Linked DNA regions of Homo sapiens. The protein of the gene in region 1 interacts with the protein of each later gene in a biochemical or structural test. Each region holds a gene or a part of one and is shown in the gene's direction. Other genes may lie near its edges.

What was found.
Region 2: the proteins of SUPT4H1 (region 1) and MFHAS1 form a complex in vitro, tested with the Homo sapiens proteins (one large-scale study listed by BioGRID and IntAct).

Annotation. Positions count from the first base shown.
Region 1 is NC_000017.11:58,349,178-58,354,002, reverse strand, and holds the start of SUPT4H1 (transcription elongation factor SPT4), read left to right. Parts: upstream 1-1,801; 5' UTR 1,802-1,867; coding exon 1,868-1,936; exon of another isoform or gene 1,937-2,004; intron 2,005-2,088; exon of another isoform or gene 2,089-2,268; intron 2,269-2,494; coding exon 2,495-2,601; intron 2,602-4,825. UniProt on the Homo sapiens protein: Component of the DRB sensitivity-inducing factor complex (DSIF complex), which regulates mRNA processing and transcription elongation by RNA polymerase II.
Region 2 is NC_000008.11:8,782,854-8,785,630, reverse strand, and holds the end of MFHAS1 (malignant fibrous histiocytoma-amplified sequence 1), read left to right. Parts: 3' UTR 1-2,277; downstream 2,278-2,777. UniProt on the Homo sapiens protein: Probable GTP-binding protein. Functions in innate immunity and more specifically the inflammatory response as a regulator of the Toll-like receptor TLR2 and TLR4 signaling pathways.

The DNA of each region.
Region 1 (4,825 bases):
AGCCATACAGGCCAGGGACCCACAGGAGAGTGGATTAGAGCACAAGTCTGGCCTCACTGAGTGGACAAGAGCTGATGGGCCTCATCAGGGTGACATTCACCCCAGGGCAGCCTGACCACTCTTGGCCCCTCAGGCATTATCCCATTTGGAATGTGAATGTGGTGGCAAAGTGGGCAGAGGACCCCACCTGGGAACCTTTTTCCCTCAGTTAGTGGGGAGACTAGCACCTAGGTACCCACATGGGTATTTATATCTGAACCAGACAGACGCTTGAATCAGGCACTATGTTAAGAAATATATTTATTTGCTAATATATTTATCCACAAATGTGGTCTGGTCTTGTGGTTTTGTTCTGTCGTGACTGTCACTCAGGGTAACAACGTCATCTCTTTCTACATCAAGAGAAGTAAATTATTTATGTTATCAGAGGCTAGGCTCCGATTCATGAAAGGATAGGGTAGAGTAGAGGGCTTGGCAATAAGAACTGGTTTGTAAGCCCCTAAAAGTGTGGCTTAGTGAGATCAGGGAAGGAGAAAGCATGACTGGATTCTTACTGTGCTTCAGTCATTATTATTATACTGTTCACTTCACACATTATCATACTTCAGTGACTCAGACCTTGGGCAAATACTCTGTGCCTCGCTTTTTCAGTCCATAAAATGGGCCTACTTAATAGTTGTTGCAGGACTTACATGAGATAATAGAGTGTAGAAAATATGTTCCAAAGTGGAAAGTTTTATTCAGTGATAGAAAACATCCAAACCTGTCACAGAGCCCATCTGAACACAGCATGGGACCGCCAACAAGAAGAAAGCCCGCCCGGAAGCAGCTCAATCAGGAGGCTGGGCTGGAATGACAGCGCAGCGGGGCCTGAAACTATTTATATCCCAAAGCTCCTCTCAGATAAACACAAATGACTGCGTTCTGCCTGCACTCGGGCTATTGCGAGGACAGAGAGCTGGTGCTCCATTGGCGTGAAGTCTCCAGGGCCAGAAGGGGCCTTTGTCGCTTCCTCACAAGGCACAAGTTCCCCTTCTGCTTCCCCGAGAAAGGTTTGGTAGGGGTGGTGGTTTAGTGCCTATAGAACAAGGCATTTCGCTTCCTAGACGGTGAAATGAAAGGGAAAAAAAGGACACCTAATCTCCTACAAATGGTCTTTAGTAAAGGAACCGTGTCTAAGCGCTAAGAACTGCGCAAAGTATAAATTATCAGCCGGAACGAGCAAACAGACGGAGTTTTAAAAGATAAATACGCATTTTTTTCCGCCGTAGCTCCCAGGCCAGCATTCCTGTGGGAAGCAAGTGGAAACCCTATAGCGCTCTCGCAGTTAGGAAGGAGGGGTGGGGCTGTCCCTGGATTTCTTCTCGGTCTCTGCAGAGACAATCCAGAGGGAGACAGTGGATTCACTGCCCCCAATGCTTCTAAAACGGGGAGACAAAACAAAAAAAAACAAACTTCGGGTTACCATCGGGGAACAGGACCGACGCCCAGGGCCACCAGCCCAGATCAAACAGCCCGCGTCTCGGCGCTGCGGCTCAGCCCGACACACTCCCGCGCAAGCGCAGCCGCCCCCCCGCCCCGGGGGCCCGCTGACTACCCCACACAGCCTCCGCCGCGCCCTCGGCGGGCTCAGGTGGCTGCGACGCGCTCCGGCCCAGGTGGCGGCCGGCCGCCCAGCCTCCCCGCCTGCTGGCGGGAGAAACCATCTCCTCTGGCGGGGGTAGGGGCGGAGCTGGCGTCCGCCCACACCGGAAGAGGAAGTCTAAGCGCCGGAAGTGGTGGGCATTCTGGGTAACGAGCTATTTACTTCCTGCGGGTGCACAGGCTGTGGTCGTCTATCTCCCTGTTGTTCTTCCCATCGGCGAAGATGGCCCTGGAGACGGTGCCGAAGGACCTGCGGCATCTGCGGGCCTGTTTGCTGTGTTCGCTGGTCAAGGTGTCAGTCGGGGACCTGGTTGTAGGGCCCATGGGGGACCAAGGTCGGGGAAAGAGGGCGGAATGGGGCTGTGGGACAGTAAAGAGAAAAGTTAAGTCTCAGAACTCAGAGGTGGCAGGGGGAGTGAGAAGCCGAAGGAGGCCATCGTTTACCTCGTAGGATCGCGGACAGGTCTTGCAGCTGAGGGCAGGGGCGGTCTTACATGCCTTTGAATCCTCAGCTCTTAGACGTTCGGTGAACTTACGTTGGAGCCGAAAGACACTGGGAGTCAGAGGCGGGTGGGGATCCGCTGCTGAGTGAGTAGTCGGAAAGGATGCCTGACCCTGAGTAGACTAGAGAAAGGAATAGATAAAACGGAATTGGGAACGAGAGAGGAAGGAGTGGGAGGGTGGGACTTAGGAATGAAGCTTTGAGAGTAGTAGGTGGGGAACCTTAGGATACACAGTCAACATAGGGAAACAAGAAATTGAGCAGGTCGAAGTATTGAGAAAGCTACTTTTTCTCTTGGTCTTGTTCATGCTTATCTCTCCTTTTCCTTTATTTTTCTTTCACTCCCAGACTATAGACCAGTTTGAATATGATGGTTGTGACAATTGTGATGCATATCTACAAATGAAGGGTAACCGAGAGATGGTATATGACTGCACTAGCTCTTCCTTTGATGGGTAAGCCGCTTCAGTTTCCATCATTCACTTCTGCATTACCCAACCTGCACCCAGAGAAGTAAATGCAGGGCAAGTGTTAATCCTAGTTGGGCCCAGCCATTCGTTTTTGGGGGTTATTTTGTGTGGGTTTTTTTTTTTTTTTTTTTTTTTGAATCAGGGTTTTGCTCTGTGGCTCAGGCTGGAGTGCAGTGGCATGATCATAGCTCACTGCAGCGTGGAATGATCCTCTGACTTCAACCTCCCAGAGTGCTGGGATTATAGGTGTAAGCCACTGTGTCCAGCCTCAACAGTTATTTTGGGACATACTAGTGCTATGCATCTAATACAGTGACCACTATCCACGTGTAGCTACTGAGCACTTGAAATGTGTCTAGTCCAAATTAAGACATGCTTTTAAGTATAAAATATACCCCAGATTTCAAAGACTTAACATGAGAAGAAAGAATGTAATCTTAATAATGTTTGTTAAATGCATGAAAATTTTTTTTGAAAATGAAGGGAAGGGAGGTGTAGTAATGGTAGATCATTGCCCAAAAGCTGTTGCTTTTTTTTTTTTTTTTTTTTTGGACAGACTTTTCGCCCTTGCCACTCATGCTGGAGTGCAATGGTGCAGTCTCGGCTCACTGCAACCTCTGCCTCCTGGGTTCAAGCAATTCTCCTGCCTCAGCCTCTTGAGTAGCTGGGATTACAGGCACCCACCACCACTCCCAGCTAATTTTTATATCTTTAGTAGAGACGGGGTTTCACCATGTTGGCCAGGCTGGTCTCAAACTCCTGACCTCAGGTGATCTGCCCACCTCGGCCTCTCATAGTGCTGGGATTACAAGTATGAGTCACCATGCCCGGCCCATTTTAGCCATTTTACTTATTTATTTATTTATTTATTTATTTGAGATGGAGTCTCGCTCTGTCGCCCAGGCTGGAGTGCAGTGGCGCAATCTCGGCTCACTGCAACCTCCGCCTCCCAGGTTCAAGCAGTTCTCTGCCTCAGCCTCCTGAGTAGCTGGGATTACAGGCACCTGCCACCATACCCAGCTAATTTTTGTATTTTTAGTAGAGACGGGGTTTCACCATGTTGGTCAGACTGGTCTTGAACTGCTGACCTCGTGATCCACCCGCCTCGGCCTCCCAAAGTGCTGGGATTACAGGAGTGAGCCACAGCGCCCGGCTGCAATGGCACGATCTCAGCTCACTGCAACCTCCGCCTCCTACCTCAGCCTCCTGAGTAGCTGGGATTACAGGCGCCCACCACCACGCCCAGCTAATTTTTGTACTTTTTTTAGTAGAGACAGGGTTTTGCCATGCTGGCCAGGCTGGTCTCGAACTCCTGACCTCAGGTGATCCTCCCGTCTCAGCCTCACAAAGTGCTGGGATTACAGGCATGAGCCACTGTGCCCGGTCGCCATTTCTAAATACACAATTCAGTGGCATTAGTGCATACTCACTGTTGTGCAACCGTCACCACCATCCATCTCCAGAACTTTTTTCATCTGTACCCATTAAACACTAGCTCCTCGTTCTCTCCTCCCTCCTGTCCCTGACAACCACCATGCTTTGTCTCTATGAATTTGGCCACCTTAGGCACCCTTAGGTACCTATGGGCTCATTCAGTAGCATTTTTTAGCTTCTTTCACCAACATAATGTCTTCAAGGTTCATTCATATTGTAGTATGCAACAGAATTTCCCTCCTCTTTTGAGCTGAATAATATTCCCTTGTATGTGTATAGCATGTTCTGCTGCCCATTCATTCATCAATGATATCTTGGGTTGTTTCTCCCTTTTGGCTATTTGTGAATAATACTGCTGTGAACATTGGTATACAAATATGTGTTCAAGTCCCTGCTTTTCATTATTTTCAGTACAGATGCACCTCAACTTCCGAGGAGTTACAACCTAATAAGCCCATCATAAGTTGAAAATATAAGCCAAAAGTGCATTTAACACACCCAACCTACTGAATATAATAAGTTAGCCTACTTCAAATGTGCTCAGAACGCTTATGTTACTGTGGCTGACCAGAAGCTGTGGCTCATGGCTGCTGCGCAGCATCATGACAGAATATTGTACTGAATTGCTAGCCTGGAAAAGAACAAAATTTAAAATTTGAAAACGATTTCTATTGAATGCATGTCACTTTTGCAAAATCATAAATTTGAAAAATCATAAGTTGAACTAAGGTAAGTCAGGGATCATCTGTATATCCACAAGTGAAATTGCTAGATC
Region 2 (2,777 bases), on another chromosome or scaffold:
AGAGGGATCGACTGACGTTCATTGCTGTTCCATAACTAGTGTAAAATATGTATATGTTTATCTTTATTTTTATAATATGCAAATACATTTAAATTTATACAGTTTGAAGCTTCTAGCGTTAGTTCACACTGGGTGCAATATTCTGCATGAGAACTGTGCCAAGATGGGGCTGATTTCTTATTTTAGTATAAGACTTTTTTGTTTTTTCTTTATTCTTTAATCCTCTTCACATTAAAAAAAAAATCTCTCTGTTAGCCCATGGATTAAGTGTTGGTTCATAGAGATTGCCAATAATCAGAAAGAACCTTAAATGTGCATTTAAGACAGTGTCCCTTCCCTTCTTTTCAATGAAGGTCCCTGCCTATATAAATCATCTGGCACGCTGGTGGGAAATCCTTTGCTCTTCCAACGTGTTATTAGTGCTGGGCAGAGATGGGGCACACTCAGGGGCCAAAGAGGACAAAAAGTCCATGCAAAACTTGAGTCTTTTAATGGCTTAAGATAATCAGGAGTCAGTTCTGAATCTTACAAAGTGCTCTGCTTAATAAGTACCTTACTTAGCAGAGCACTTTGCAAACATATTACTTATTAGCAGAGCTCTTTGTAGACCTTCCACATCTGGCTGTCAGATCTTAAGGTTGTGAATTTAGGCTCCAGTTACATTCACTGGAGAGCATAATCCCACACGGGTTATTTATAAATACAGAGCCTCTGATTGGACGGTCTCCTGCCAAGAACTAGTAATACCCTTGTTTTAAAATCTTCACAAGGTAAAACTTAAAAAGCCAACCAAACAAATTGCTCTCCATTCTACTTTTAATTGGGCCAAACAGCATATGCTACAGTAGTAACATGTTTTTCGGAGAGTGTAAAAAACTCTGTTTACATTTGCCTCCTCCGTGGGTTGATCGAAAATGTATAAAACTGACTGCTTCTCGCCAGCCTCAGACAAGAAGAGTGAGTTGCTGGTACTCGCTACTCTTTTACTTCTTTTGTAAAGTATTGACTCTTGGAAGGCTACAGTATACAAAGTCTCAACATGTTTTTTAAAAGAAATAAGGAGCAAGCGACTGCCCTGCTAGAAATCACAAACCGATTTTTGTAGAATATTTTGTGCCCCAGGCATTAATTTCACTGACTCCAGAACCTGCAGTTCAGAGAATGATTTCTTATGATGATAAAAATCGAATGGGATCAGACGATGTTTGCATTTTTTTAATACTTGAATAGGACACCTCAAGTTTGAGATTTCATTTTCTTTTAGAACACAGTCACAAGATTAATCTGGTGAATCCTTTTGTCACAGTTCTCGTGTGTGTGTGCGCGTCTCCGTGTGTGTGTGTGTGCATGTGTGTAAAACTGAATGGTCACATTTAATTGCTTTTTGGACCATTGAATAGTTGGGAAGTAAGAATTTTTTAATTGGCATGAGACGGTTCCTCAACTGTTAAATTAACCAACTTTGACCTGTCTTTAGAAAAAGGCTTATTTGTATGATTTTGGGCTAACTCCCCGGGGACCATATTAAATGACAAAAATGCTCCTTTGGGTGACACACCCTACAAAGTATTTGCTGTTACGAACATAAACGCCCACATTCTTAATATCTAATATTTTTGACCAGTGATGTTTTATGCTGTCATCTGAACCCTAGAGAAGCAGTGTCAGAGGAAACCTTGGTGTCACATGTGTCTTAGCAAAAGGGTTACCATGATCGAGGGTCATGTGACCAAAAGATGCTCCAGAGAAGCTTGAGAATTTGTTTCAAGTTGGGAGGAGGGTTGGAGATACAAAAATCACTCTGCTCTACAGGACTCTTCAGCTGTCTATGCAAGAAATTCCGTTTTCTCTTTCAGCACCTGGAAAGACACAGCAGCCCACCGAGGCGATAGGTGATTCACTAAGCACAAGAGGAATGTTTTCTAAGCAAGGCGTCCCTTGCCTCTCAAACAAATGCCCTCCAAGTTTGTTAGGGTTTCTATTCCTGCAACTTGTGGTATCAAAACCACTTCCTGGAATTGTCAAAGCACTGCCAAAATAAATGTTTTTCCCCCTTCTAAGAAAAAAAAAATGACAGTGCTCATATTTGACACTTGTGTATTGGACTCTCTTTTGAATGAATAAAAAGGAAAAGGGGTTTGGTGTAATTCCTGATGGGGTGCGTGTTGTTTTTCATGCCATGGTTTGTGAATTTTAATTGTGGTTTCCCATTTCGTTGTTGTAACTGGGCAGAAATTAAAAAAGAAAAATCAATAAAAATACAAAGAAATGGTTAAACAGTTGTATTCCCAGAACTTAATTATTTCAGATTTTGTTCATTTGTTTTTACTTTTAATTCTATCAGTTAAGGAATGACTTTTATAGTTTTAGTCCTTAGTGGTACTGTTGGAGCTGTGGGAGGTGGGTGGTGGTAGCTCTCATCTGTTTGGTCTCCGAAGAGAAAACTAAAGAATCCCTGTTTTAAAACTGCCTCTGTTTTCAGGCTGAGGATATAACTTGAAGATCAGCTCTCTTAAATCAGAATCTTTTTTTTTTTTTCAATGATCCACTATATTCCTAAGTCACAGCTGTTGAATTTATGGTAGCTTTGGAAGTTCCCCTGATCTTTCTTTCAAAGGCTCTTAGCAGAAGTCCTGCTACATACTGCCTCAGGGTGCCCTATTTGCAAACTGGAAGAGCAGGCCCCTCAGGTACCCATCAGAGGATTTAGTACTCCATATTGTTTAAATAAAGGCAAAGAGAAGATAAGGAAGGACCAAAGCCAGGGTGTTAACGTG